Regions from separate parts of the Homo sapiens genome. Here regions 1, 3 and 4 are each reported to be linked to region 2. The links are microRNA targets in miRTarBase. Many come from high-throughput screens and were not tested one by one. Region 2 holds a microRNA gene; each other region holds the end of a gene's coding sequence.

Region 1 (7,115 bases), not on the chromosome of region 2:
TGATCTTGTGTCTGCTTTGAACTTCTCCAGTCCATTCTCCAGCTGGCAGCCAGAATCATCTTTTTCAAAACACAGTTCAACTCTGTCCCACTCTGCTTAAACTCCCTCAGTAGCTTCCCATTGAGTTTCAGATAAAGCCCAAACTCCTATCCATTCTTCCCAGGTGTGATGGGGCACCCCGTGCCCTCCAGCCTCCTCATTCCCACTTTTCTCACTATGTTGGCTTTCGTTTAGGTCTCTGAACCCTCCAGGCTCCCTCTGGCCACAGACTTGCCACCTGGCTAGCTCCCTCTGCCTACCCCTAGCCTCTGAGAGCCTTTCTGCCTCCTCTGATGAGGCCCAATCCCCTAGTAAATGATTTTATTTACACAGTAGACAATAGAGGCTAGATGCATATTTTTTTTCTTAAAATATTGGACTACTTTTATTTTCTTACATAATAATGATATTTATTTAAAGTGCTTTAGGATAGTTCCTGGATATCATTATGTACAGATTAAAGTTTAAAAATTAAACTTCTGAACCATGAGATAGATTGGTTCCCATTCAAGTAATCCATTCACATTTTACCTACTGTAATGACTGGAATGTGCTGTAACATACTTTGCACCCCTGGCCTCCCTTCCTGTCTCCTATAATAATGGAGCTGTGTTTTCAAGTTTGGCAGGATGGCTTCTGTTGGAAATTTGCCCTTTTAAGTTAGGAAGACTGACCCCCATCTTACTGCTCTCTTTCGAAGCTAGTCTAATGGAACAAGTAGACTCAGGACAACTTGGACTAAATGCACTGTAAACCACAATGGAAAAACTGCAGTGAGGTATTCCCAGTAGAAATCTTGGAATTCCTTCAAGTATATTGAGATTTTGTTAGAAATTGAATTGCCAGTGTAATCCATCTTCCTTTTGAGAAAACATTCAGATAAAGAGCTGAGGCCTAGCAGCATTAACTGTTAGAACATCCCTTAAATCAATAAGCTACAAATCTGGCCGCACATTCCTGCCGCGCCTGGTGGTGTGCTCAAGTGGCTTTAGGCTGAAGCAGCATGACTGATAGCACATCCTCAACCAGGCACATGCCTGGCGATGCAGATTCCTGTGTTTACCGTAAGCATTGCCTTGTTCCATTCTACAGAATGCAATTATATTTTGTTTCACATAAGAAAAGCAGTTTTTCTTTTTTTTTTCTTTTTTTTTTTCTTTTTTTCAGATTTTCCAAATGTGGTTATTGAAGGAGTCCTCCATGGGATATTTTACCCTCATCTACAGCCCAGGTAGAAATCCTACATGGCTAAAAGAAGCAGAAGCAAGTTTCGAAGTCACAGTCAAGGAAATCAATACCTACCAATTTAACCTAAACGCTATGATATATAACAGCTCTAGCTAGTGGTAAAGTGCACAGTCCCAGCTTAATTCAGGGCAGGGACATTTCCATTAGAATGGTGCTCTTAAAAATAGAAACTGAACCGGGGCGGTGGTCAGGCTAAGGCCAAGTGTTTAAGAAGTAGAGTGTAGCTGCCAGCGTAGAAACCCATGAAAAGGAGGCCACAGGAGATTCCTGGGAGCACTGGGTGTAGCAAAACAAAGCCACTCTCTGCTTCAGTCGCACCATTTGCTAATTGAAAATCATATCCTGAATCATACTGAGACTGATCAACTTTGGTAGCTTTTTTGTTCAGATCTTATGACACACTACTCTTCTCACCGTGAGATTTTCTCAGCCAGTGATAGTACATTCTGAAATGCTGGCACCAGGAGACGGCCACAGACACACACTGCTAAATGTGAAGATGGAACTAAACTGGAAATTAAATTATACTGACAATATTATGGCATTTTTAAGATCATGGCATTTTAATTTACATTAGAGTGGAGTTGCATCATACTCAGGGGTTAGCTTCCAAGGTCAGTACATAGGTAAAATGGGCTATTAGGATGATCCTTGAAAGCCCTTTAGAAGGGTGCCATGTTGGAAACCTGTACATCCACAACAAGTAGCTTTTCCTCCTATGTTGGAAAAAAAGACTGTTTCTTTGTTTGAAGACCAAGTGAAGTTGTTGGTGTTTGTTTAGGGGCCATTTTGTTAAAAAAAAAAAAAAAAAAGCACATAACTTTTAACACTAGAATCAGCCCGCAAGATGCTTGCCCCGCTAGTGGCAGATGTGAACTGACAAGGAGTGAAGCGCCCACCCAGCGGATGGACAGCACCCACCTGGGTTTACTCAAGGGTGTGCATTCATTTTAGGTGGGATCGCCACAGGATTTCATGTTATTTTCCTTACGGCTTCCTTTTCACTGACCTCATTTGTTGAGTTAATGTAAGTTAAATGTGTTTATGATATAACTCCACTGTACATCATCCTTTGAGTAGTAAAGGATAAAAGCATATATACTACCTATATGTATGTGCTGTATGTGGGCATTTCATTGAGATCTAATTAATAGCTAGCCTATTTATGGTTATTCGTTTTAGTAAGTTCTGTGGGAGCAAGGTATTTAAAATCAAAACTAATAACTACATCATGGTTTTTGATTAGGATCTAAATATTCAGGTTTTAAGCCTGCTGCAAACTTTTAAAATATTATGATAGATTCTGTACTACATGTGGGAAACAAGCAAGAACTAAATAATCAAATGTTGTCAACCAAAAGTAATAGTTGGGTATTGGAGATTTTTTTAAAATGTTTTTATGTTATTAGCTATTTGGAGTTAAATAAAAACAGAACAAGGAAACATTTGAGTTTGTCTTCTCCTAAGATTTCACTGGAAACATGGTTTGTATCTGTCTGTTTACACACACACACACATATGTGCACACACAAAACCTCTCACACATTCACATAGATGTTTATTTCTAATATGATAAGATAAATTATTATAATAAATTATCTCATCTATTAAGTCAGTAGATGTTCATTAAATATTTGATGATTTACCAAGATAATAAGAATTTTTTTGAAAAAACCAAGTATCTATAGTGGTACACTGCCCAAGAAATCTTTTCTGAGAATTAAGTTTTTTCTTAGTGATGACTTTCGCTTTTTATATTTATGTAAATTTTATTTCCCATGTCAAACAAGTCATATGCAGACATCATAAGATTTGCAGGAGGCACACCTCACAAGAGTGGGAAAACCCAGTCATCACACTTATGCACTACACAAGGATCATATCTATTTAAACTTTTAATGTGTAATTCTGTCAGGGTTATTGAAGGAACTAGAAACCAGTGTAGGTCTTTTACGCAGAAAAGGCTATAATGCTGAAAACTGAATGCTTACAGAATCTGTTGGAAGGGTGAGAGGAGTGCACTCCTGGTAGGTGTCCAAGAACAAATTCCAGAATGCCCCAGCAACTTCTAGCACTGACCTGCCTGGGGAGCTACAGCCTGTGCTGTAAGCAGGAATACAGGGAGTTAGGGGGCTGTGAGCGAAGCTCTTGAGGTAAACAGCATGAGAGCTGCAATCCAGGGATCAGCAAGTAGAATCAAAAAGGACCTGTTATCTCCATGAGATACGGAGCTCCCAGGAAATATAATGGCGATCTCTCTATGAGGTGCGGCCTCATAGCAGCACCCAGGAAGCTGGTGACTGGGCCTGCATCACAATTGCCTATCAACATCCGTGGCCTTGCTTGCCAGCAACCACAGCCCAAAGTGGCAGGAGGATGGTATTCGCCCACTCCCACCTCCCACTCCATAGCTCCCTTCAACGCACATCCAGTTTGTAGAACCTTATTCTCCATCCCAGGTGCAGGGAGTCTGGGAAGAAGCTGCTAGCCTTCTACAGCTCAGGAATGCACATGGGAAAGATGATGGAACTTTTTTTTTTTTTTTGAAGACGGAGTCTTGCTCTGTTGCCCAGGCTGGAGTGCAGTGGCACAATCTCAACTCACTGCAACTTCTGCCTCCTGGGTTCAAGCATTCTCTGCCTCAGTCTCCTGGGCAGCTGGGATTACAGGCGCATGCCACCACGCCTGGCTAATTTTTGTATTTTTAGTAGAGACAGTGTTTCACCATCTTGGCCAGGCTGGTCTTGAACTCCTGACCTCGTGATCCAACCACCTTGGCCTCCCAAAGTGCTGGGATTACAGGCATGAGCCACCGTGCCCAGCCAGAACATATTTCCATCATTTCCATGGTTGAAAATTTAATAAAAAATATATAAAACTATAGATAAAAAATAAATTTGTCTCCCATCTCATCTCCTAATACCGAATTCCCGTTCCACAGAAGGGAGTACTTAATGTGTCTGTACTTAATGTGTCTACTTTGAGTAATATTTCATCTACATACAAGCAGATATTGTATGTTTAGTGTACATATATTTAATTTCTCCTCTTTTACAAAAATGGTAGCACGCAATACCCATTGCTTTCTATTTTTTTTTATTTAACAATATCTTGGCAATCTTTCTGTATCAGTATATAAAGTGCTATTCTCTTTTTAAAAAAAAAAAGCTGTATGGATCTTCTATAATTTGTGTAACCACTACCATATTGATAGACATTTTACTTTTCGATTTCACTAGGCATGCCTGGCCCATATTGCTCTACAGGTTGTGCATTGCACAAGTCCAAGCAGTGTCATTCACATGGACCACAGTGTTAATAGTATTCCAAGTCATGCTTGGAACCCTGCACTTGGGGAAATATCAAAAACTTTAATCATTCAAACCATGGATTCACAGGCAATAGAGAAGTAAAGGACAGAGAAAGGAAACCAGAGGAAGGAAAAGGAAAAAAAAAATCCCATTACCACTTAAGTCAGGATGTGGGGACATCATTTGTCCTGCCTGGTTCCTGGACTTGGTGTTTTGCCTGGACTGTCTTCGATGCTACCTTATGCAGTGCCTCTCAGGCCTCATCTCTGCCTACTCATTCTGCATATTGGCAGCCCTCGTGTCCTTTCTCCTGGTGTCCTTGTTACTGCCCCCATTACAATCAGCCATGTGAACAACCCCAATATCACCATGACCATCAATACCTGGTAAATCCTACAGTTACAGTTATAAGTTCCCATTGAAAAGAAGTTGAGCTCTCTTAATCAGTTTAGAGAAATATGATCACACTTTTGAAATAACAGATGGTTTTCATCTCATTTGTCAACTTTGATCGATTGACAATGGCTGCTTGAAGTGCTGCATCAAGAAGAATTCTGGCACACCTGTGAGGATGGCTACTATCAAAGCAGAAAATAACAAGTGTTGGTGAGGAGGTGGAGAAATTGCAACCCTTGTAACTGTACATTGCTGGTGGAAGTGTGAAATGGTTGCAGCCTCTGTGGGAAATGGTATAACTTCTTCAAAAAATTAAGCATTGAATTGCTATGTGATTCAGCACTTCCACTTCTGGATATATACCTAAAAGAAGAAAGCAGGGACTCAAACAGCTATTTGTATAATGATATGGTTTGGCTGTGTCCCCACCCAAATCTCATCTTGAATTAATCTTAGTTCCCATAATCACCACAGGTCGTCAGAGGGACCTGCCAGGAGGTAATTGACTCATGGGAGCAGTTACCCCCATGCTGCTGTTCTTATGATAGTGAGTGAGTGCTCGTGAGATCTGATGGTTTTATGAGGGGCTTTTCCCCCTTTTGCTTGGCACCTCTCCTTCCTGCCATCATGTGAAGAAGGATGTGTTTGCTTCCCCTTCTGCCAAGATTGTAAGTTTCCTGAGGCCTCCCCAGACATGTGGAACTGTAAGTCAATTAAACTTCTTTCCTTTATAAATTACCCACTCTCGGGCAGTCCTTTATAGAAGCATGAGAACGGACTAATACATATATTCATGTTCATAGCATATATTCATAGTAGCCAAAAGGTGGAAACAACCCAAGTGTCCGGCAATGGATGAATGGATAAAAAGGAAATTCTGACACATGCTGCAACACAGATGAACCTTGAAGACATTCAGAGACATAAGCCAGTCACAAAAAAGCAAATACTGTATGATTCCATTTCTATGAAGTATCTAGCGTAGTCAAATTTATAGAGACAGAAAGTGGAACTTTGGTTGACAGAGGCTGGGGGAAAAGAGGAAATGGAGAATTAGTGTTTAATAGGTTTCAGCTGGGGAAGATGAAAACATTCTGGAGCTGGCTGGTGGTGATCATTGCTTAACAATGTAATGTACTTAATGCCATAGTATTGTACACTAAAAATGGTTAAAATAAATTTTATGTCATGTATATTTTACCACAATAAAAACAATAAAGGCTTTTGAGTGACTGCAGGCTCAGAGAATAAGGCTGTACTGATCAGGTAGCACTGTCTGTCGTGGGTGCAGGAGAGCTTTTGGCACACATACCAGTTACTAGTCTCACATCCCTGGCAACCTCTACAATCCTGAAACAGTAGTTCTAAACCAGAGATTTGCATCAGAATCACTTGGGATTCTGAATCAATAAATCTGGCCAGAGACCTGTCCTTGGGTAGTTAGAAACACCACCCAGTTCACTCTGATACACACCTGTATTAGGGACCACCAATTGATGGAGATGGTTTATGACCCACCCTTTAGCCATCTTGAATTATTTATTGACTTTCATAACTCCTTCAGAATCCAGTACCAAGAGAACATCTGTTCAACTCTTGGGGGTGTTTGTTATATGAGGTCACAGGAAAAGACCCTGAAGAAGCAGGAAGGACAAGTTTGGGTAGTGGTCTCAATAGATGCACTATACATAATTGGGAAGTTGTATATTCATTCATTCAGTTGTTCAGTGAAATGCATTTGGGTCCCCCCACTGGATTAAGGCACTATGTTAATTACTTAAAGAATACAGATGTAATCCTTGCCTTCTGGAATTGTTGGCCATTTACTAGGAAGGGTTTTTCCATCTTAATGAATTGGACATAAAGTTCAGTGATTAAGGCTGTCTTCTTCCAGTCTCTCTACTCCTTGCAAGTAATTATTTTCATTTTGGCTTTGTTTTGGTTTTTATTCTTGATGATAATTACAGATTTTGAATTCAGCAGCGGAAACACAGGGAAGTAGCAGGCAGTAACTCAAAACCAAAATGTCTGCAACGTTTATGTTTTCTGTCTGTGCAGATACATAGTGACAGACTGGATTCTGATGAGGGTGAAGGTCTATTTTTGTGTGACGGGAAGGAG
Region 2 (7,126 bases):
CATGATGCTCACCAGCCCCTACCACCACCACCCTCCACCACCACCACCACCACCACCACCAACACCACCAACACCACCACCACCAACACCACCACCACCACCACCACCAGTACCACCACCACCACCACCACCACCACCAACACCACCACCACCAACACCACCACCACCATCAGTACCACCACCACCACCACCACCACCAATACCACCAATACCACCACCACCACCACCATCACAACCACCACCACCAACACCACCACCACCAACACCACCACCACCAACACCACCAGTACCACCACCATCACAACCACCACCACCAACACCACCAACACCACCACCACCAACACCACCACCACCACCACCATCAGTACCACCACCACCACCACCACCACCACCACCACCACCACCACCACCATCAGTACCACCACCACCACCACCACCACCAATACCACCATCACCACCATCACCACCACCACCATCACCACCACCACCACCACCACCACCACCACCACTAATACCACCCTCCAAAAACAATGATCACAGCTTCCAGAAAAATCATTTTTGGGGTGGAGTGGATGCAGAGGCTTACTAAAATAGCGACAACACATGCCTCCCATAGCAAAAAATGAAGGACCAATAATCCCAGACTCAAACCCTATCTCGCAAGGGTGCCATCACTCCAGGAAGTGCCGCTAAAACGGCTTCAGTTCTGAGGACCAGGAGACATTTTCCACAAGCAAAGCGTATGCTCCATGTCCCACCCTCCATTCACATTCCACACACGGACAACCTACACCAATCTCACTTCTCTAAAGCTGGAACTGGTTCAAAAAAGTCTTGTACTTGAAAACCACTACTTCTCACACATGCAGAGTTAGACATTCCTCCTACTGGCGAATGGATCAGTGAGTGGACCAGATAACACCCATTGTCTGCTATTAGCCAGTCCCTCCCCTGCAGTCACAGCTTGTTGAGGAAGCAAGTCTGATCCCCCGAAGCCCCCAAGCACGATTTGGCATAAATAAAGCACGTCTACATGGACAAGCATTCTGCACATACCAGCCAGAGCAAGGCCACTTCCCCCAGGTCGGGGCTGCCTCCACGAGGCCCTGTTGAGAACCAGTGGGACATAGCTGGTTAGGGAATTGGACGGTCTGAGTCATAAACATGTATTCTGTGTGGCCAGACATCATTCGTGTCCCAAGGAGTGGGTCTTGCCAGGATGGTCCTGAAGGAGGGGGACATGTGATTGAGGAATAGCTGCTGGCTGGGCTTAGGGGTCTTCTTTTGGTAACTGAAACAGCGGCAGCCTGGAAGAGCTGGGGTAGGTGTAGTAACCAGCCAAGGAACTCTTCTTCCCCTGTGTTGGGAGAAAGGTCAGCCCACACACTGTCTCTTCCAAGGGGCTGGCATCCCTCCCTGAGGGGCCTGGCTAGGGTACCCAGGCTAGTGAACTGACACATCCGTGTCTGCCCCGGGCCCTCAGCTCTAGGTGCAGCTGACTCCCCAGGCCCTGCTGTGGGATGTGGCTGCAGCAGCCCTGCTCAGGACTTGTCCTTAATTGCATATGCCCCTAATTGGTTTCTTCCGCTTTTTTCACCTGCCCCCTCCCCACTTCCTCCTGGAATGGGCTTCCCTGATGGTACTTCCTCTGTGATTAACCATAAATCCTGTAAGCATAGAAGGAACATCCACCTTTTAGATGCAAAAAGTTGCTGGCCAGATGCAGTGGCTCACGCCTGTAATCCCAGCACTTTGGGAAGCCGAGGTGGACGGATCACCTGAGGTCAGGAGTTCGAAACCAGCCTGGCCAACATGGCAAAACCCCATCTCTACTAAAAATACAAAAATTAGCCAGGCACGGTGGTGGGTGCCTGCAATCCCAGCACTTTCGGAGGCTGAGGCGGGCAGATCACAAGGTCAGGAGAGCAAGACCATCCTGGCTAACACAGTGAAACCCCATCTCTACTAAAAATACAAAAAATTAGCCGGGTGTGGTGGCGGGCACCTGTAGTCCCACCTACTCAGGAGGCTGAGGCAGGAGAATGGGATGAACCCGGGAGGCGGAGCTTGCAGTGAGTCGAGATTGCGCCACTGCACTCCAGCCTGGGCAACAGTGTGAGACTCCGTCTCAAAAAAAAAAAAATCAGTTTGCCTCCCATGTAGTCACAAACATTCCCATCCTCCTCACGTATTTGCCATTTTTTTTTCCAGTGTATACCTATGTCCTCCCTATTCTTTAGAGTTTAAGCTTTGGCAATCAAGAGACAAGCTAGTGTATATTTTGCCATTCTTCTAAAACTCTGAAAACTGTGTTACACATGGTTTTGTTCATATTTCTTGGTCCATTTCTTAACAAGAAATTGGTGGTGTAGGACCTAACTTTTTATGTATAGATTTACCTTAGGAAACAGGATTATATGGTGATTCATTCAATAAAGTCTCAATTCTCAAAAGAAAAAACAAATAAAGGAAAACACTTGCCAGCTGTTCCACCATCTGCGCACATACCCTCTGCGAGGGGCTGACAGACACCCACACTGTGTTCCTGAACTTCACACCACGTACAGCAAGTCCTTCAAGGAGGCACTCAGTGCTTTAGGAGGTCCACTGTGGGGTATCTGCCACACACAGAGTGAACACATCACCAATAGCCTCCCTCCAACCATTCCTGGCCGGCTTCTGGGGTGCTGTCTCTCTTCCAGAGCCCAGGGTGTCCTCCTGCAAAGGAAACAGACGGCAAGGGTTAACACACAAGGATACGTACCATCAGAGATGCAAGGCTTCCTTGAGGCCCTCCTCTGACGTACCTGAGGTGATGGAGGCAACAGTGACCCTCTCCTGACATAAGCAGCAGTGAGAGCAGAATCCCCCCTCGATGGGAGACAAGGATCTGGTCGAAAGAGAACTGTCCATGTCGCGTCATCCAACAACTGTGCTTCCCCTTCCACAGGGGACTCAGAGCCAGTGTCCCCTCCAGAGGTCCTCAGGCTGAGGGTCCACCGGCCAAGTGGCACGTGTCATATACAGACTGTGGGGCCTGCCTTCTGCTCCCACAGCTGCACCTTCCCTGAAGTGGGCACCCCATCATTTAGAAAGGTGGCACTCAAATGAGTAAAACAGGTTGACTATGCAGGCCACAGCTTGGACAGCCTTTCTTGATGGAATGTCCTGACATGAAGACCGGTGCTGCTTCTCCAAAGTGTTTCTGCCACCGGGAAGTTCTCTGGAGGGAGGCCAGAGCCCAAAGGATGGGTGGAGCAGCTGCCCACTGTCTGAAGGGCACCTGCTGAGGCCAGCATGGTCCCAGTGTCACCAATGGACTGCCGTTAGCATCTCCTTCCAGAAGTGGGTTCTGACCTTTCCCGATGGCACATGATTCTCAAATAGAAGTGCACCATATTTTTCATCATAAATAAAGGGAAAAAACACAGATAACCTCTCCTCCAGTACCAAAGTGTAGCCCGGAGAGCAGTCCCACAGCCTCTAGTTCTGGCTGGCAGAGCTCCAGGAAGCCCTCCTGGGGGACAGGGATGCTGAGGTTCGGGGGACAGGGATGCTGAGGTTCAGAGGACCAGGTGGCCGTGGGGATGACGCGTATGCTCTCTGGGCAACACCCATCACTCACCCCAGAGAGCTGCTGATGCCACCAAAGCTCCCAGCTCAAACAGCCTTTCCCTTCAAGTGGGATTTGATACTGAAAAAAGAGTGGCCAAAAATGATTCGTCACAAATAAAATGAACACACTGGGGAAACCTCTTCTCTTCCAGGGCCCAAGGATGGACTGAATGTGGGGACTGGACACCCGGACAGCAGTGTCTTCGGGAAGGCATGTGTTCTGCCGTCAGCCATTGTTCACTGCTCCCGATTTGGGGCAGACACCAATGTCAGACACCATCTCTCTGATGCTGGTGATCAAGGAGCACATCTCTCAGAGGCAGAACTGGCACCTAGAAAGAGTGGGGCGGGGGCTGGGCGCACTGGCTCATGCCTGTAATCCCAGCACTTTGGGAGGCCAAGGTGGGTGTGGATCATGAGGTCAGGAGTTCAAGACCAGCCTGGCCAACATGGTGAAACCCCGTCTCTGCTAAAAATACAAAAAATTAGCTGGGCCTGGTGGCGGGCGCCTGTAATCCCAGCTACTTGGAAGGCTGAGGCAAGAGAATCGCTTGAACCTGGGAGGCAGAGGTTACAGTGAGCCAAGATCGTGCCATTGCACTCCAGCCCAGGAGACAGTGCGAGACTCTGTGTCAAAAAAAAAAGAAAGAAAAAAAGAAAAGAAAAGTAAAGAAAGAGCGGGGCAGGGAGGATTAGGCTCCAGTAAATCACCACTCTGAGAAATCCCATCTCCCAGAACCACAGGGACGCCTTCTGCCACAATTGCTACCCCCAATCAATTCTTCTGTGGAGGTGCGGGTGGCAGTCCCCCAGATGGCATGTCCTCATGTCCCCTTCAGCCATCCCCTCAAGCCTCTGGAGAGAGCGGATGGGGGCAGGGGTCTTCATTGCTTATTTGTTTTTGTTGTTGTGGCAGCTGCTTCCTTTTTTATTTTTTTCTTGGCTGCTATGATCTGAACTCTTCTCAAATGTTGGGGAACGCTTCTCAATGGAGCCTGGAAGTGCATCTCCCCAGCCTCCCTGGCAGCGGGGAACTGGCATGTGGTTGAGGCCTCGCCAACTGTGCCTGTCCGAGAGGTGGGCGTGGACTGAGGACTGAGGACTGAGCATGGTCCCTGAGCCCACCAACACACAAAGTCACCGAGGGGCTGCCAGGACAAATCCTCCATGTACATACCAAGAGAGGTAGTGACACCAGGTCCCATGCTCAGGGTCCCGTCGGGGATGGAGGCACTTCAAGGAGATATTTGATACCGAAAAAGAAGTGCACCATGTTTGTTTCGTCACATATAAAGCGAAAATAACATGGGCAACTTCTTTTCAGGTACCAGAGATGAGCACGTCCTCCCTGCCAGAGGCACACCTGGGCGTGAAGGGACACTGAGGGTCAGGGCGTGAGGGCAGGGCCGGGCAGACGCTGCCAATCAAACTTATGCTCAATTAAGCCTAAAAGCATCAGGTAAGTTGGCTCACCCCAGGGGAGGTGGGGGACATGCTTCGAAGGGCTGGGCTGACACTGAGCAGAGGCGGACAGTCATCACGGATAAAGCAAACCGATCCCAGACTCCCTCTACTTCGGGATCCCAGGAAGTCTTCATGGGCAGAATTCAATAATCAGGGCAGACGGCTTTCGGAATGTTTACTATCAACCCTGCAAATGCTCATGGAGAGCATCACTTCAGAGAAAATGGGATGGTCCTGGACCCAAAAATAGAATCTCCTCCATGAGCCCATGGTTCCAGGAAGGAGATGGGAAGACAAAGATATCGAATCAGGAGAAACAAACCACCAAGGCAGCCCCGGCTCTCGGTGGACCCATCTCTCTGTGCACCTTGCATGGTGCTGACCACTGCACCTCCTCTCTAAAGTGCTCCGGGTTCCCTGGAGGCATGGCTTGGTTCTAAAACACTGACAGTTAAGTGTGAGTTGTGACAAATACAGCCAACCCACAGAGAGCCAAAGGACAGCAGGGGCCAGGAAAGGACAACGGCTTCCCCAAGTCCACATCACTTGCAGGGCAGCCTCCCAGAGAGAGGTGGATTCGAGGGAGAGTGAATCGGGGCAGAAGTTCTGGGGCCCACCATCCATCAGGCCTTCCAGAGAGGACCCAGTGACCCATTGCTGGACACAAAACACGGTAATTGTGCATCATTTGTCAACCATAAATTAAATCACTAAGACAAAGCTTTGAAAGCATAAGTCCATAAGAAAAGTCACCTTCCACCAAAACCCTGCCTTAAATAGGACACTGAAGATAGATAGGCAAACCGTGAGAAACACATCATTGAAAAAAATGCAGGCTTTCCCAGTCACACTGGAAAACACACTGTGGTATCATCTGTTTGTATTGCAAGTAAGATAAGATCTAACTCCAACTGGCTTAAACAAGTAAGGGATTTATAGACGTATATAACTAAAAAGTACAGAGACAGAGCAAGCTTCAGGCAGGGTTTGATCTAGGGACTCAAATGATATCATCCAGGCTCTTCTCTAGGTCTCCAAGATGCCTTTCATGGTACAGACTCCCTCTGCTGTGTCTGCGTGGCACCAAGCCCTCTCCTCTCAGTCCTTAAACGGCTGTGGGACCTTCGAAGCTCACGTCAAAGTTCACTGTCTATTCCCAGCTGAATGGAATAGACAGTGTCTACTCTGGCAGCTATCACAGGAAAGGGAGAAACAGTTTCTTTCCCAGAAGCTGCAGCAAGCATCTCCTTGCCTATCACTGGCCCAGTGGGGTCATGGGCCTATTCCGGAAGCAATTGCAGTGGCAAAGGAGAAGAGATCAAGAGATTCGCTTAAGCCTGGGCTGGTGGAGGAAGTGGGGCAGGGTCAATGCAATCAAAGCACACGGCGGGAAGACGGGAGCTTTCATAAAAAAAAAAAAAAAAAAAAAAAACAAGGAGAAATTTAGGAAGGAGAAAAGACATGGGGTAGGGAGGTCCTGATCAGCGTCCACTACAGGGGCCCATGTGCCTTCCCTGAAGTTGCACCCAAACCAAGACGTCTTCAAGGCAGAATAGGATACTGAAAAAGAAGTGCACCGCGAATGTTTCGTCACAAATAAAGCGAAAAAAACACGGGCAACTTCTCATTAAGTACCGCACGTCAGCACCGTTGACAACACTGCTTCTCCGCGGCTGGTATCACTCCTGCGGGCTTCCTGAGAGCACATGGGTCCTGATGCGCACCGGGCAACCGGTGACAAAGATATGGCCGTGCATACAACCCCCTCAAGACCTGGGAGACATCTAACAGGTCTGCCCCCTCTGCACAGGTGGCATTGTGTCCTGGAGCTGCTTGTGAGCACGATGTGTTCAATTTCTCAATAACAAAAAGTCTCCTCCAGTAGCACAGAATATGACAATGGCACAGAAACAGTGATTTTGCATCCTAAAAGTCCTCCTGAGGATACATGAGGAGGGACCAGGAGAGTCACAATAACTCCCCAGATAAGATGGATGAGATCTACCACCCACCCTTTAGGGACAAACAGCAAAGTGTCTGCCCTGAT
Region 3 (7,120 bases), not on the chromosome of region 2:
TTTTTATTTTTGCTGGCACAGCCTTCATGGTTCAGATGATCTCTAAAAAGTTTATTCTTAATTGCTACATTTGGAACATTCTAGTTATCCATGAGACTGTGTTTGAAGTACAACAATTTGTGGTATTCACCTAAATGGCTCAGTTCAACCAATGGGTGATTACAGTGTGTCAGGCCCTGTGCTAAATGCTAGGGAAACAAACATACTGGCTCTGACCTTCTGGCAGAGAGCTTAGAGAATAGTATTACAGTATAAAAAGAGTAAAACTTCATAATATGAATAGAATACATGACATATTGTGAGAGAGGTCTAAATAAGGGGTTCTGAGATGTAAAGATGGGACATTGAGTCCAGCCCTAGGAGCCCAGGGGTTCAGAGAAGCCTCCCTAAAAGAGTACCTGAATAATCTTAAGTGCGAGTAGCAGCAGCTAAAATAGGAATGAATGTAACAGAGAGAAAAGCAAAGGCAGAGAGGCATCTAATAGTATGCTGTGCATGGCAAGGAAAGCCAGATGCTCACTCAGTGTTTCTAGGGCATAACATTGAGGCAAGGGGGATATGTGAAATAAATAGGTAAGGAACAGCTCATGAAGAGCCTGTGTGCTATGCAGGGAGGCATGGTCTTTATGCTAGAAGCAGATGATAGGAAACCATTGAAGGGCTCAAAGCAGGAACTCCGTGGTCTGATAGACACAGCTTATTTTTCTCAATGTCCTTAACCCATTATTGGAAAAATAAACATATATCAAATCTCCCTGTTCTCTTTCCTCGTAGTTCTTCCTAATATGCTATTTATTTGCTAAAGCTTTCATATCTCAAGACCTCACCATATGGTTCAAACGATATGATATTCCCATTCCCATGAATGTATATTTAATTTAATTATAAATTGCCAATTTAATCTCTCTCTATATTTTGCAGAATGTAACAGAATCTGGATGCAAAGAATGTGAGGAACTGGAGGAAAAAAATATTAAAGAATTTTTGCAGAGTTTTGTACATATTGTCCAAATGTTCATCAACACTTCTTGATTGCAATTGATTCTTTTTAAAGTGTTTCTGTTATTAACAAACATCACTCTGCTGCTTAGACATAACAAAACACTCGGCATTTCAAATGTGCTGTCAAAACAAGTTTTTCTGTCAAGAAGATGATCAGACCTTGGATCAGATGAACTCTTAGAAATGAAGGCAGAAAAATGTCATTGAGTAATATAGTGACTATGAACTTCTCTCAGACTTACTTTACTCATTTTTTTAATTTATTATTGAAATTGTACATATTTGTGGAATAATGTAAAATGTTGAATAAAAATATGTACAAGTGTTGTTTTTTAAGTTGCACTGATATTTTACCTCTTATTGCAAAATAGCATTTGTTTAAGGGTGATAGTCAAATTATGTATTGGTGGGGCTGGGTACCAATGCTGCAGGTCAACAGCTATGCTGGTAGGCTCCTGCCAGTGTGGAACCACTGACTACTGGCTCTCATTGACTTCCTTACTAAGCATAGCAAACAGAGGAAGAATTTGTTATCAGTAAGAAAAAGAAGAACTATATGTGAATCCTCTTCTTTATACTGTAATTTAGTTATTGATGTATAAAGCAACTGTTATGAAATAAAGAAATTGCAATAACTGGCATATAATGTCCATCAGTAAATCTTGGTGGTGGTGGCAATAATAAACTTCTACTGATAGGTAGAATGGTGTGCAAGCTTGTCCAATCACGGATTGCAGGCCACATGCGGCCCAGGACAACTTTGAATGTGGCCCAACACAAATTCATAAACTTTCATACATCTCGTTTTTAGCTCATCAGCTATCATTAGCGGTAGTGTATTTAAAGTGTGGCCCAAGACAATTCTTCTTATTCCAATGTGGCCCAGGGAAATCAAAAGATTGGATGCCCCTGGTATAGAAAACTAATAGTGACAGTGTTCATATTTCATGCTTTCCCAAATACAGGTATTTTATTTTCACATTCTTTTTGCCATGTTTATATAATAATAAAGAAAAACCCTGTTGATTTGTTGGAGCCATTGTTATCTGACAGAAAATAATTGTTTATATTTTTTGCACTACACTGTCTAAAATTAGCAAGCTCTCTTCTAATGGAACTGTAAGAAAGATGAAATATTTTTGTTTTATTATAAATTTATTTCACCTTAATTCTGGTAATACTCACTGAGTGACTGTGGGGTGGGAAATGATCTCTTAAGAATTTGATTTCTTTCTATTCCATAGTACAAACTCGTTCTCTGTTGAAACATTCTTCTATCACCCCAGTGCCCTATCCATGTACATGTGTTCTTATTGCTCTAGTCAAACGGTGCTTATAAATATCTTTCAGAAAGTTTAGGAGAAATCTGTATCCTATTTGACTTCCAATAATCATGTATTGGCTGTCAGCTTCTTACCTACTCTCAGTCCAGAGAAATAGTATTTGGCAGCCACTCTTTAAAGTTTATGGGTTGTGGATTGTGGCGGTTGATTTATTTTTTTTATTTCAATTGGGATAGAATTTTTTAATATACCTGTATTTTTGTTTTGTTTTATGTAGCTTTTCTATTAGGGAGAGTAGGAAAAGTGCACCATTTTCTTCTCTAAATTTCCAGTCCAGTCTTTAGGGGAATGTTAGTCTTCCTGAGATGGGGGAAGGAAAATCATAATGCCAGTCACTTTGCAAATAATATTTTATAGTGATAAATGGTTCATTTTGGTTACATAGGCATACAAGTGGGCTTAAAACTTGGAATTTACCAGGGCTCAAAATTAAAATTCTTACATTAGTTACTCGATATGGATCGCTTCAGTTGATCTTAGAAAACTCAAGGCATAGATCTGCAACCACTTTAAAATACTATTAGTTAACTGAAGAAACAAAATAATAGTGTAAAACAATCTAAATTTTATTTTTCATGCTTATACTCTTTACAAAATCAGTCTTTCAGATTTTGGATTCAAAATCTGCCTGTTTGAACTATCTTCCTTAATTAACCCACTCAGTGTCATTTGCCTAGAGGATACTGTGTTTATGTCTCATTTACTGCCTTAATTGCTGAAAATATCGTCCATGTAGAACATATAATAAAGAAAGCACAGAAACGTATACTTAGAAACTCAAATAGTAAAGGTAAGCGTAACAATATGATATACAGTTCAAAGTTATATTGATGAATTTTGTTTTTATCTTTTCTTAATTTCAGGAAAGTAAAAGACATATGAAAGAATATTATCTCTACATTCTCCCTGGCGATGAACAAAAAGGGCTAGAAGGCAGAGGACATGGAAATGTAAACAGAACCAATATATAATTGTTGAGCCCAGGCCGGGCACGGTGGCTCACGCCTGTGATCCCAGCACTTTGGGAGGCCGAGGCGGGCGGATCACGAGGTCAGGAGATCGAGACCATCCTGGCTAACACGGTGAAACCCCATCTCTACTAAAAATACAAAAAATTAGCCTGGTGTGGTGGCAGGCACCTGTAGTCCCAGCTACTCGGGAGGCTGAGGCAGGAGAATGGCATGAACCCAGGAAGTGGAGCTTGAGTGAGCTGAGATCGCGCCACTGCACTCCAGACTGGGGGAAAGAGCAAGACTCTGTCTCAAAATAAAATAAAATAAAATAATTGTTGAGCCCAGAGAATTTTAAAGCCTAATCACAAAGCTAGTATTATATACTCTCATTTTTTTAATCTTAGAAGGGTAAGTCACAGAATGACTTTTTTCTTTTGCTACTGTTGTTGTGAGAGAGGATCACGTGTTTTGATGTGCTACTGTTTATGACCATCAAATTCAATAACTCATAAGGTCAACCAACATATACAATATGAAAATCAAGTAGTGTGGCTGTTCCTTCCCTTCTCCCCCAACTTAGCACAAAAATACTAGAGAATGCATTTTAGTTCCTTCATCTTTGTTATGTCAGACTTAGCTTAAGCTCTTTGCATTCCTTGTGAGCCATGGTTAAATGTATGCATGCCATATATAAATATTTTGCACAGAGAAAATCTCATTTCCATAGAGGTTTGGTTCAATGTTTCTGAATGTGTCTGATGACTGAATTGTGTCCTTAGTAAGAAATTGGTTATGCAAGGTAAACTTTAGCTTCATTAAACAGTGTCCTAATTGTAATTGTATAATCTATCAGATGACACACAGAAGAAAAATTAATGAATTATTAATAAAGGCTAATGATTTTATTCTATATTTTACTTCTTCAATGCTGTACTTCAAAATGACAATTAGAGGAATTGAAAAGGAAATTGTTAGACAAGTAGAATTGAAAATTCTACAAGTAATTTATACAAAGTTGTCAACACTTTCAGAATATGGTCATCAGAGAATCCAGAGTCACCCAACAGGTGATTTGTCTTCATCATCATCCTCACTTTTTTTTTCATTAACAAATTCTCTCCTTTAGTCATATTGAAAGCATCATTCTTGAAAACCTATTATATGTGAACATTATGTTAGATGCTACAGTTCTAGCTGTGAATAGAAAGCCATAGTCTCAGCCTTCACAGAGATTGCATTTCAGCAGAAGAGCCATATTATCAAAGTAATAACTTGAGGACTTATTCACTTACCATCATTTCTAATGAACACCACCAGAAGAACATATAATTGGAGGATCTGATTCATTCAAGGTATCAGAATTTCTTTGAGAAAGTGATATCTGAGGCCAACTACGAATTATGATTAGGACTTATCTGGGGTGAAGTGGGAAGAGTCCACCAGCAAAACAGCTTACCAAAACCTTCAGTCAGGAAGGATCATGGCATTTTCATAGAGTGGAAGGAATGACAGTACAGCAAGGCTAAAGGAAAGAACTAAAGAGGAAGCTGGTAAGAAAAGTATCAACTGGTTAGGGTCTAGTAAGAATTTGCTGTCTGACCAAAAGAAATGAGACTTACTCTGAAATGCATAAAATATATAGAATGTATTATTTTACCATCAAGAAAAGAGGTGAAGTCAAAATTCCCTTACCACTAAATCCCAAGTTAATAAAATAATTTCTAATAACAACATCTTACATGGGCCTCATCATTGCAGTCATTTAATGAATTCTTTTCAACTTAATGGACATAAACTTCAGCAAGTAATTATCTGCTCGCTGTCCAAAACAACAAGCCTTTTTGTAGTGTATATAGTTTGAGAGGCTGAAGTCAGGACAATTAACATATGAATCCATAACTGGGGAGGAGAGCTGAGGAGGATGATGGAATAGCTCTCTTCAGGGATTGCCTCTGCCCACAGAAAGATCAATTTGAACAACTATCCATGCATGAAAATACCTTCAAAATAGCTAAGGAAACCAGGTGAGAGTTTACAGTGCCTGATTATAGCATAATAATAAGAAAAGATGCATTGAAGAGAGTAGAAAGGATGGTTTTATATTATTTGCATTACCCACCCACCCTCACCAATCCCAGACACATGGCACAGAGAGATAGCATCTGCTTGTGAGAAAGGGAAAGAAATGAGCATAGAATTTTGCCTTGATACCTAATATCAGAGTCAATCCAAACAAGACTATCCCAATACATATTATAATCAAACTGTTAAAGATCAAAGACAAAGTGAGTATCCTGAAAGCAGGAGAAAAGGAAGAAATAACATGTAAGGAAGTTTCAGTACACCTAGCAGCAGACTTCTCAGCATAAAACTTACAGGTCAGGAGGAAGTGGGATGATTCAAAATACTGAAAGAAAAATATTATTAACCAAGAATATTGTACCCAGAAAAGCTGCCCTTCAGAAATGAAGATGGTATAAAAACTCCCAACCAAAGAAAAGCTAAATGAGTTAACCACCACCAGACCTGTCTTACAAGAAATGCTAAAATGAGTTCATCAAGCTGAAAGAAAAGGATACTAATGAGTAACACAAAGCATCTGAAAGTATAAAACTTACTGGTAAAAGTAAGTACACAGTCAAATTTAGCATACTCTAATACTATAATGTGGTGTGCAAATCATTTGTATCTTTAGTATGAAGGTTAAAAGATAAAAGTAGTAAAAATAATAACTACAATATTAACTAAGGGATATGGAATATAAAAAGATGTAAACTGTAATATCAAAAATTCAAAATCGAAGGGGACGGAGTGAAAGTGTAGAGGTTTATTTTTTTGGTGATCAAAGGTAAGTTGTTAGCTTAAAATAACCTTTACAAGATTTTTTGGTCTGCCTTTTGGAAACCACAAGACAAAAACCTATAATAGATAAATAAAAAATAGAATTGAATCAAAACATACTACTAGCAAAAAAAATCACTTAATCGCAAAGAAAGTAAGAGAGGAAGAAAAGATCTACAAAAAGAAAGACAATTAACAAAATGGAAATAATAAGTCCTAATCCACCAGTAATTACCTTGAATGTGATTTGATTAAATTCTACAATAAAAAGACACAGAATGGATAAGTGATACAAAACCAAAACCCAATTATATGCTACCTAAAAGAGATTCACTTCACCTATAAGGACACACAGTGAAGAGATCTAAAAAAATATTCTTCACAAATGGAAACTAAAAGAAAGCAAAAGTAATTATACTTACATCAGATAAAATAGACATTAAGACAAAAACTGTAAAAAGTGCCAAGAAAGTCACTATATAATGATAAAGGATTCAGCAAGAGGATATAACAATTGTAAATATATATGCACCCAACATCAGAGCAACTAAATATATAAAGCGAATATTAATAGCTTTGAAGGAAGAGATAGACTACAATACAGCAATAATAAGGGACTTCAACACTTTACTTTCAGCATGAATGGAGCATCCAGACAGAAAATCTAAAAGGAAACATTGGATTTAAACCACACTCTAGACCAACTGGACCTATCAGACATAAAAAAGAACATCCCACCCAACAGTTGCAGAATACACATTCTTCTTAACTGAAGATAGAACATTCTCCAAAATAGATTAGATAATATGTTAGGCCATAAAACAAGTCTTGTCAAATTTAACAAGGTTGATATAATATCAAGTATCTTTTCTGATCACAATGGTATAAAACAAGAAATCAATAACAAGAAATTTGAAAAATTTACAAATTCACAGAAATTAAACAACATGTTCCTGAACAACCAATGAGTCAATAAAAAAA
Region 4 (7,126 bases), not on the chromosome of region 2:
TTGATCTCAGGTGATCCACCCACCTCAGCCTCCCAAAGTGCTGGGATTACAGGTGTGAGCCACCACGCCCAGCCAAAGGGGCGTATTTTTATAATACATCTTTGGCCTAGTGTTTATTTTCTTTAAAGGTTAAAGTCTAGAAAAGGAAGTATATATGTATGTAAATACATAGTTCATGATGACTCATGCCTGTAATCCCAGCACTTTGGGAGGCCAAGGCAGGAGGATCCCTTGAGTCCAGGAGTTCGAGACCAGCCTGAGCAACACAGTGAGACCCTGATATAATTGTTCAGTATGTATGGTGATAAAAGAAAATATACATTAGAATTTACTAATAGCTGGAAAGGACTAAGTCTTCCATTTGCCTACTCGAAATTTTTCTATTTTTTTTCCTCTTTAAGTCCCCTTTAGTGTTTATCATGTGCAAGGTGTTGCTGTGCTTAATGCTGGAGAAATTCTAAGATGTATCTTAAGGAGCTTACAGTCTGATATAGAAAATAGACACGTGGACAACAACTATAATTGAAGGCTTAATAAAATAAGTATAAGAAATATGCTGCAGCCAGGCACAGTGGCCCATGCCTGTAATCCCAGCACATTGGAAGGCCAAGGTGGGAGAATTGCTTGAGCCCCAGGAGTTCGAGAACAGCCTGGGAAACATAGTGAAACCCCATCTCTATAAAAAAGAGAAATATATAAGCTTCAGGTGTACTGAGAAGGAAATCATTAATTCTGAGGGGTAATGGGAGATAAATCAGTCTATATTAAGATCTACTAACAATAGCTTTTCTTTTGTTTTCTTAATAGACGAAGAATGCTGTTCAAGCTTTGATTGATAAGCACCAAAGAATACCAGGAAACATTATGAGTGCTTTGTTAGAACGTTTTCATTGATAACAAAGGGTCAACTAGAAGATGATTTAGTACATTTATATTAAATGTTTGTATCTAAGGTACTGTCTTCTGAATTTTGTAGGTCCTATAATTAGTATTTTTTAAAAAAATCATGTTAATAAGCATCTTTCACAGAATTCGTTTCTTTAAAATAGTCAATTTTGTTTTTGCAATTGTGTCAAATACTAACAAATTACACACCTAGTAATTCAGAAAAAGATGTCTTATTTGTAAATTCCTAACAATTTATGCTAAACATATAGATTCTTAAGTTTATTAATAACAGCAGTTTAGGTTAAACAAACATTCCTGGATAATGCGTTAAATTTCTGTATCTGTCGCCCTGAGCTGATTTTGAAAGATGGTATAAGCTAGGGGTTAGTATAGTTGTTTAAGTTAGAAAAAACATGCTGTTGTCTGCCCCTCATTCCCTTCATGACCTTGGGCAAGTCACGTAATGTTTTTGTGCCTCAACAATTCACTTTTTAAAAACATGATCGTATGATGAATGATATTATTTTGTTATTTATATTTACTGTGATTGATAACTGTTGAACCAAAATAATAAAATAATTAATTTAAACAATGTCAAAATCCTTTAGCAGTTATGTATATATTTTCTCCATTGTGTGTTTAAATTATGTCATGTCCAGTTGCCAAGCACAATGAAAAAGATGTATTATTTTTTAAATTGAATAAAAAATTAGGAAAAATAAAATTTCTAATTATTATTTTTAGTATGATATTTTTAACAAGAGTCTATAGGCAAACAATATAGGGTGTGCTGTGCATTGTCAGCCCTATACTGTGGTCTTAATAATGCCAGCTTAAAAATCACTGTTGTGCTCTGCATTTCGTGTGTTAGAAGCTGATTCTAGGCTGAGGAAAGCAAGAGTTCTCTACTTTTGCTCAATATTGAGGCTTACCCAGTTTGACTCTACAGCCAGTGAAGTGGTTTATTGCTTCAATAAAAATATACTTGAATGATGAATTTATTTATGTTTTGTTTTGTTTTTATTTAGAGATGGGGTTTTGCCATGTTGGCCAGGCTGGTCTTGAACTCCTGACCTCAGGTGATCCACCTGCCTCAGCCTCCCAACTTGCTGGGATTACAGGTGTGAGCCACCATGCCCAGCCTGAATGATGAATTTATGTGAACACAAAGCCCTCTGAAAAATTAATGATTTTCAATTTGTTGTCTTCTTGAAAACTGAATTTAAGTATTATTTAAACAGAAAAGTGTCAGAAATCAAATGCAGTATCTCCCTCTCCCTTTTTTAAATGTTGAATTAGTAGGGTTTTTGTATAGCTTTTTGTATTGTGTGTATTTATGATATGTGAAATGTACATAAAATTAAACAATGTGAAAATAAACCTGAGTTGCAGTTAATTTTCTTGAGAAATTACATGTGACATTTTAAAAATCTTTTTTTTTTTTTTTCTGAGATGGAGTCTCGCTGTGTCTGTTTCCCAGGCTGGAGTGCAGTGGCACCATCTTGGCTCACTGCAACCTCCGCCTCCCAGGTTCAAGCAATGCTCCTTCTGTCTTCTGAAGGAGCCTCCTGAGTAGCTGGGATTACATGAGTGTACCACTACACCTGGCTAATTTTTGTGTTTTTAGTAGAGACAGGGTTTTACCATGTTGGCCAGGCTGGTCTTGAACTGCTGACCTCAAGTGATCCGCCCACCTCAGCCTCCCGAAGTGCTGGGATTACAGGTGTGAGCCACTGCGCCCACCCTAAATAGTCATTTTAAATTGATTTTTTTGTTGTACTCTTTACACATTTCTCACCTATAATCATATTCTTTGATCTAGCCACAATGAAGAAACTTCACTTTCCAGTGTAATAAATATATTTTAATTTTGTGGTCAATGAGAAGAGTCAATTAATGATTACTTGCAGTTTCCTCCCCCCACCAGTGAGCAGTGTTTGGTTCAAAATTGATGAAATATTTCAGAATGAATGAATAAATGATATAAAATGAATGAGAAATTTGTTTTGGGTCAACTATTGAGTTTTAAAGACTGAAGTTAGCCAGGAGTGGTGTCATGAACCTGTAGTCCCAGCTACTTGGAAGGCTGAGGCGGGAGAATTGCTTGAGCCCAGGAGTTCGAGGCTGCAGTGAGTCGCAATTGTGCCACTGCACAGCCTGAGTGATAGAGCAAGCCCATGGTTCTATTAATAAAGACTAAAGAAAGAACAGCATTTATTGCTAATGTGGCAAAAGCTATTATTTTTACAATATTTAAGTTTTACTGCTTTAATTAAAACCTTTTTTTAAAACCCTGATATTCAGACTAACATCATTGCTTCAGATCTTTATCTTTGCTATTTGAGTTTAATTCCCATTTATAAGAGTCAGAGAATATGACTAAATATAGAAATATGGCTGGGCATGATGGCACACACCTATAATCCCAGCACTTTGGGAGGATTGCTTGAGGCCAGGAGTTTGAGACCACCTGGACAACATAACAAGACCTCTTATCAAATAAAATTTTTTTGTTTTTAAATTAAGCTGGGTTCAGTGGCTCACACCTGTCATCCTAACACTTTGGGAGGCTGAGGCAACTGGGTCACTTGAGCCCAGGAATTCAAGACCAGCCTGGGTGAAATCCTGTCTCTACAAGAAAACGCACAAAAATCGGCTGGGTATGGTAGTGCACACCTGCAGTTACAGCTACCTGGGAGGCTGAGGTGGAAGGTTGAGCCTGGAGAGGTCAGGGCTGCAGTGAGCCATGATTGTGCCACTGCACTCCAGCCTCAGCAACAGAATGACACCCTGTCTCAAAAAAAAAAAAAAAAAAAAAAATTAAAACAAAAGAAATATAAGTAATGGGAAGAAGGTGTATCAGTTTTTTTTCATAATTTTTCTTTCCCTTCTTATCACTTCTATTCATGTGTCTTGACCCTTTTTTGAGGAGTGTTCACAGTCAGAACCTGATGCAAGTATGAAGAGCCTCTCTCCAGAAGTGTAAACATGGCGCACTTATGGGAAGTTTTTCTTGCTCATTTTTAAAAACTTTCATTCTGAAACAATTCGAAGCTTACAGAAAAGTTGCAATTATAGTGCAGAGTACTCCCATACACTCTTCACCCAGATTCACCAAGGTAACATGTCACATTTGTTTTATTCTTTTCACACTCCTGTTGCCCTCGCTGTCTCCACATATGTATCTATACTTTTTCTCCTAGATCATCTGATAGTAAATTGCAAATACCATGCCCCTTACTGTTACCTGGACTGTGAGATCATCCATTTACAGAACCACAAGACAATGATAAAAAAAATCAGGAAAATCTTGATTGATATAATACTATTATCTATAGACTGTATTTAAATTTCACCAGTTGTCTCAGTAATATAATTTATATCAATCTTTCTTCCTGATTCATCCAAGGAAGGATCACACATTGCATTTAGTTTTCCTATTTCTTTAGTCACCTTTAATCTGGAATGATTCTTCAGCCCTTCTTTGTCTTCAATGATAGTGACCTTTTTGGAGAGGGGGGACCATTTATTTTGCAGATAAGCCCTCATTTTGTTTTTGCCTCACATTTCATTACAAGTTGATTCAGACTATGCATTATTTTAGAAATACAACATGAATGATGCTGCAGCTCTGTCCAGGGCGTCACATCAGGTGGCACATATGTTGGTTTGTGTCATTAGTGGCAATAACTTTGATCACTTGGCTGAGATGGCATTCACCAGGTTCCTTCCCTGTAGTTGTTATTTTTTTCCCTTTGTAATAAGGAAGCTTATTTTGAGATTCTTTGAGACTGTCTACAGTCATGCATTGCTTAATGATGGGAATATATTCTAGAAATGCATCGTTAGGCGATTTTGTCATTGTGTGAACATCATAAAGTATACTTACCCAAAGCTAAATGTATAGCCTACTACACAAATAGGCTGTATGGTATAGCCTGTTGCTCCTAGCCTACAAACTTGTACAGCATGTGACTACTGAATACTGTAGGCAATTGCAACACAATAGTATTTTGTGTATCTAAACACAGCTAAACTTAGAAAAGGTACAGTAAAAATAAGGTATTATAATCTTATGGGACCACTGTTGACTGAAACGTTACTATGTAGCACATAACTGCATGTAGCTGTTCCTCATCAAACCTTAACTAGTTAACTTGTTTTAGCATCTTTTGAATTGATTCTTGTGTGAATAAATTATTACTAGGGATTCAAGAGTGTGATTTTCTCATATCCTATATTTACTAGTTGGCATTCTTTTTTTTCTTTTTTTCTTTTTTCTTGAGACAGGGTCTCACTCTGCTGCGGGCAGTGGTGTGATCTCGGCTCACTGCAGCTTCCTGGGTTCAAGCAATTCTCATGTGTCAGCCTCCCAAGTAGCTGGGATTACAGGTGTGCGCCACCACGCCTGGCTAATTTTTGTATGTTTAATAGAGATGGGGTTTTCATGTTGGCCAGGCTGGTAGTAGTCGGCATTCTATAAGAAAGAGCATTCCAATTTCAGTATCGTGCCCCCCCACCCCCACCCCTAGGCTTTTAAAAATAATTTCAACTTTTAAATTCAGAGGGTACATGTGCAGGTTTGTTACATGGGTATAATGTGTGACTGCATGACTCTGAGGTTTAGGGTATGAATGATCTCATCCTAGTACCTAGGACCCAACAGATAGTATATCAGCCCTTAGCCTTTTTCCCTCTCCCCTGTAGTAGTCCCCAGTGTCTGTTGTTGTTTCCACTTTTATGTCCATACCCTTAGTTTTTCTTTCTTTCTTTCTTTTTTTTTTTTTTTGAGGCAGGATCTCACTTGCCCAGGCTGGAGTGCAGTGGTGTGACCACGGCTCATTGCAGCCTCGACCTCCCCAGGCTCAGGTGATCTGCCCACCTCAGCCTCCTGAGTAGCTGAGACTACAGGCATGTGCTGAACCCCCAGGCTAATTTTTGTATTTTTTATAGAGATGGGGTTTCATCATATTACCCAGGCTGGTCTCTAGCCCTTAAGCTCAAGTGATATGCCCCCCTTAGCCTCCCAAAGTGCTGGGATTACAACTGTGAGCCACCGTGCCTGGCCACCTGTATTTATTACAACATTTCTCACTTATTTATCACTTACAAGTATTTTCCCTCAAATATAATTGGGGCATGATTCGTTGACTCATTGGCCATTGGTGATTAAACTCAATCTGTAGCTCCTCTCCCTTCTCCTGAGGTAGGGATGGGGATGGGGCTGAAACACACACACACACACACACACACACACACACACACACACACACACACACAGATACACACCACATTTTGTTGATGAATGTTTGGGGTGATTGGTGTACAAACGTGTCTGAGTCTCTGCTTTTAATTCTTTTGGGTATATACCTAGAAGTGGGACTGCTGTCTCATATGGCAATTCCACATTTAAGTTTTTGTAGGAACCACCTGTAAACCAAAAATAAATTTCTGAGGCCCCTTGATAATAACTCTTTTAACAAATTGCCATCAGAAAAATTAATAATCTACATATGACCCCCCCGATTCCAACTTCTAGTTGTCCTGACCTTCCAGATCAAATCAATGTAAATCTTACATGTATTGATTGATTGTATTTTGTCTCCCTAAAATGTATAAAAGCAAATTGTACCCCAACCGCCTTGAACACATGTCATCAGGACCTCCTGAGGCTGTTCATGGGTGCATCCTTAACCTTGGCAAAATTAACTTTCTAAATTGATTGAGACCTGTCTCAGATACTTTTGTGCTCACACAGCAAACTTCCACAGAGACTGCATCATTTTACATTCCCATCAGCGATGCACCTTTACTAACACTTGTTATTTTCAATTTTTTTTGACAATAGCCACCCTATGACTAGTGGTGAAGTGGTATCTCACTGTGGTTTTGATTTGCATTTCCCTAATGATTAGTGATGTTGAGCATGTTTTCATGTGTTTAGTGGCCATTTGCATATCTTCTTTGGAGAAATATCTATTCAAGCCCTTAGTCCATTTTTGGATTGGATTGTTTTGTTGTTGATGTTGAGGTTTTGGAGTTCTTTATATATTCTGGATATTAATCTTTTATCAGATATATAATTTGCACATATTTTCCTCCTCTTTGTAGGTTGTATTTTTATACTTCAATAATGTCCCTTGATTAATAAAAGTTTTTAATTGTAATGAGATCCAATTTAGCTATTTCTCCTTCTTCTTCTCTCTCTCTCTTTTTTGGGCCTATGCTTCTGATGTCA

Evidence for each region. Region 2 holds the annotated microRNA hsa-miR-495-3p (AAACAAACAUGGUGCACUUCUU, at 4,875-4,896, opposite strand). A microRNA usually pairs through its seed, bases 2 to 8, with sites in the 3' UTR of a target mRNA and lowers its output. Matches are read on the target gene's strand: a 7mer-m8 pairs with bases 2 to 8, a 7mer-A1 pairs with bases 2 to 7 and ends in A, and an 8mer does both.
Region 1: the mRNA of SNX24 is a reported target of hsa-miR-495-3p. Seed matches in the 3' UTR shown: 7mer-m8 at 2,059-2,065 and 7mer-A1 at 2,076-2,082.
Region 3: the mRNA of IL15 is a reported target of hsa-miR-495-3p. Seed matches in the 3' UTR shown: 7mer-A1 at 1,529-1,535.
Region 4: miRTarBase lists TMEM68 as a target of hsa-miR-495-3p. Seed matches in the 3' UTR shown: 7mer-A1 at 1,413-1,419.

What each region holds. Positions count from the first base shown.
Region 1 is chr5:123,006,476-123,013,590 of GRCh38, forward strand. It overlaps SNX24 (sorting nexin 24), which reads left to right. Exons shown (of 7, transcript NM_014035.4): 7 at 1,207-2,730. The coding sequence ends at 1,274. LOC124901213 (small nucleolar RNA U13) reads right to left here and starts at 3,165; the gene lies at 3,067-3,165.
Region 2 is chr14:101,031,574-101,038,699 of GRCh38, reverse strand. It overlaps MIR495 (microRNA 495), which reads right to left and starts at 4,945; the gene lies at 4,864-4,945. LOC124903407 (mucin-2-like) reads right to left here. Exons shown (of 5, transcript XM_047432049.1): 5 at 4,218-7,126. MIR543 (microRNA 543) reads right to left here and starts at 6,713; the gene lies at 6,636-6,713.
Region 3 is chr4:141,731,817-141,738,936 of GRCh38, forward strand. It overlaps IL15 (interleukin 15), which reads left to right. Exons shown (of 8, transcript NM_000585.5): 8 at 922-2,171. The coding sequence ends at 1,032. Among named protein-coding and RNA genes, the nearest start is that of IL15, 99 kb to the left of the region's middle.
Region 4 is chr8:55,733,900-55,741,025 of GRCh38, reverse strand. It overlaps TMEM68 (transmembrane protein 68), which reads left to right. Exons shown (of 8, transcript NM_001286657.2): 8 at 808-2,268. The coding sequence ends at 894. Among named protein-coding and RNA genes, the nearest start is that of TMEM68, 36 kb to the left of the region's middle.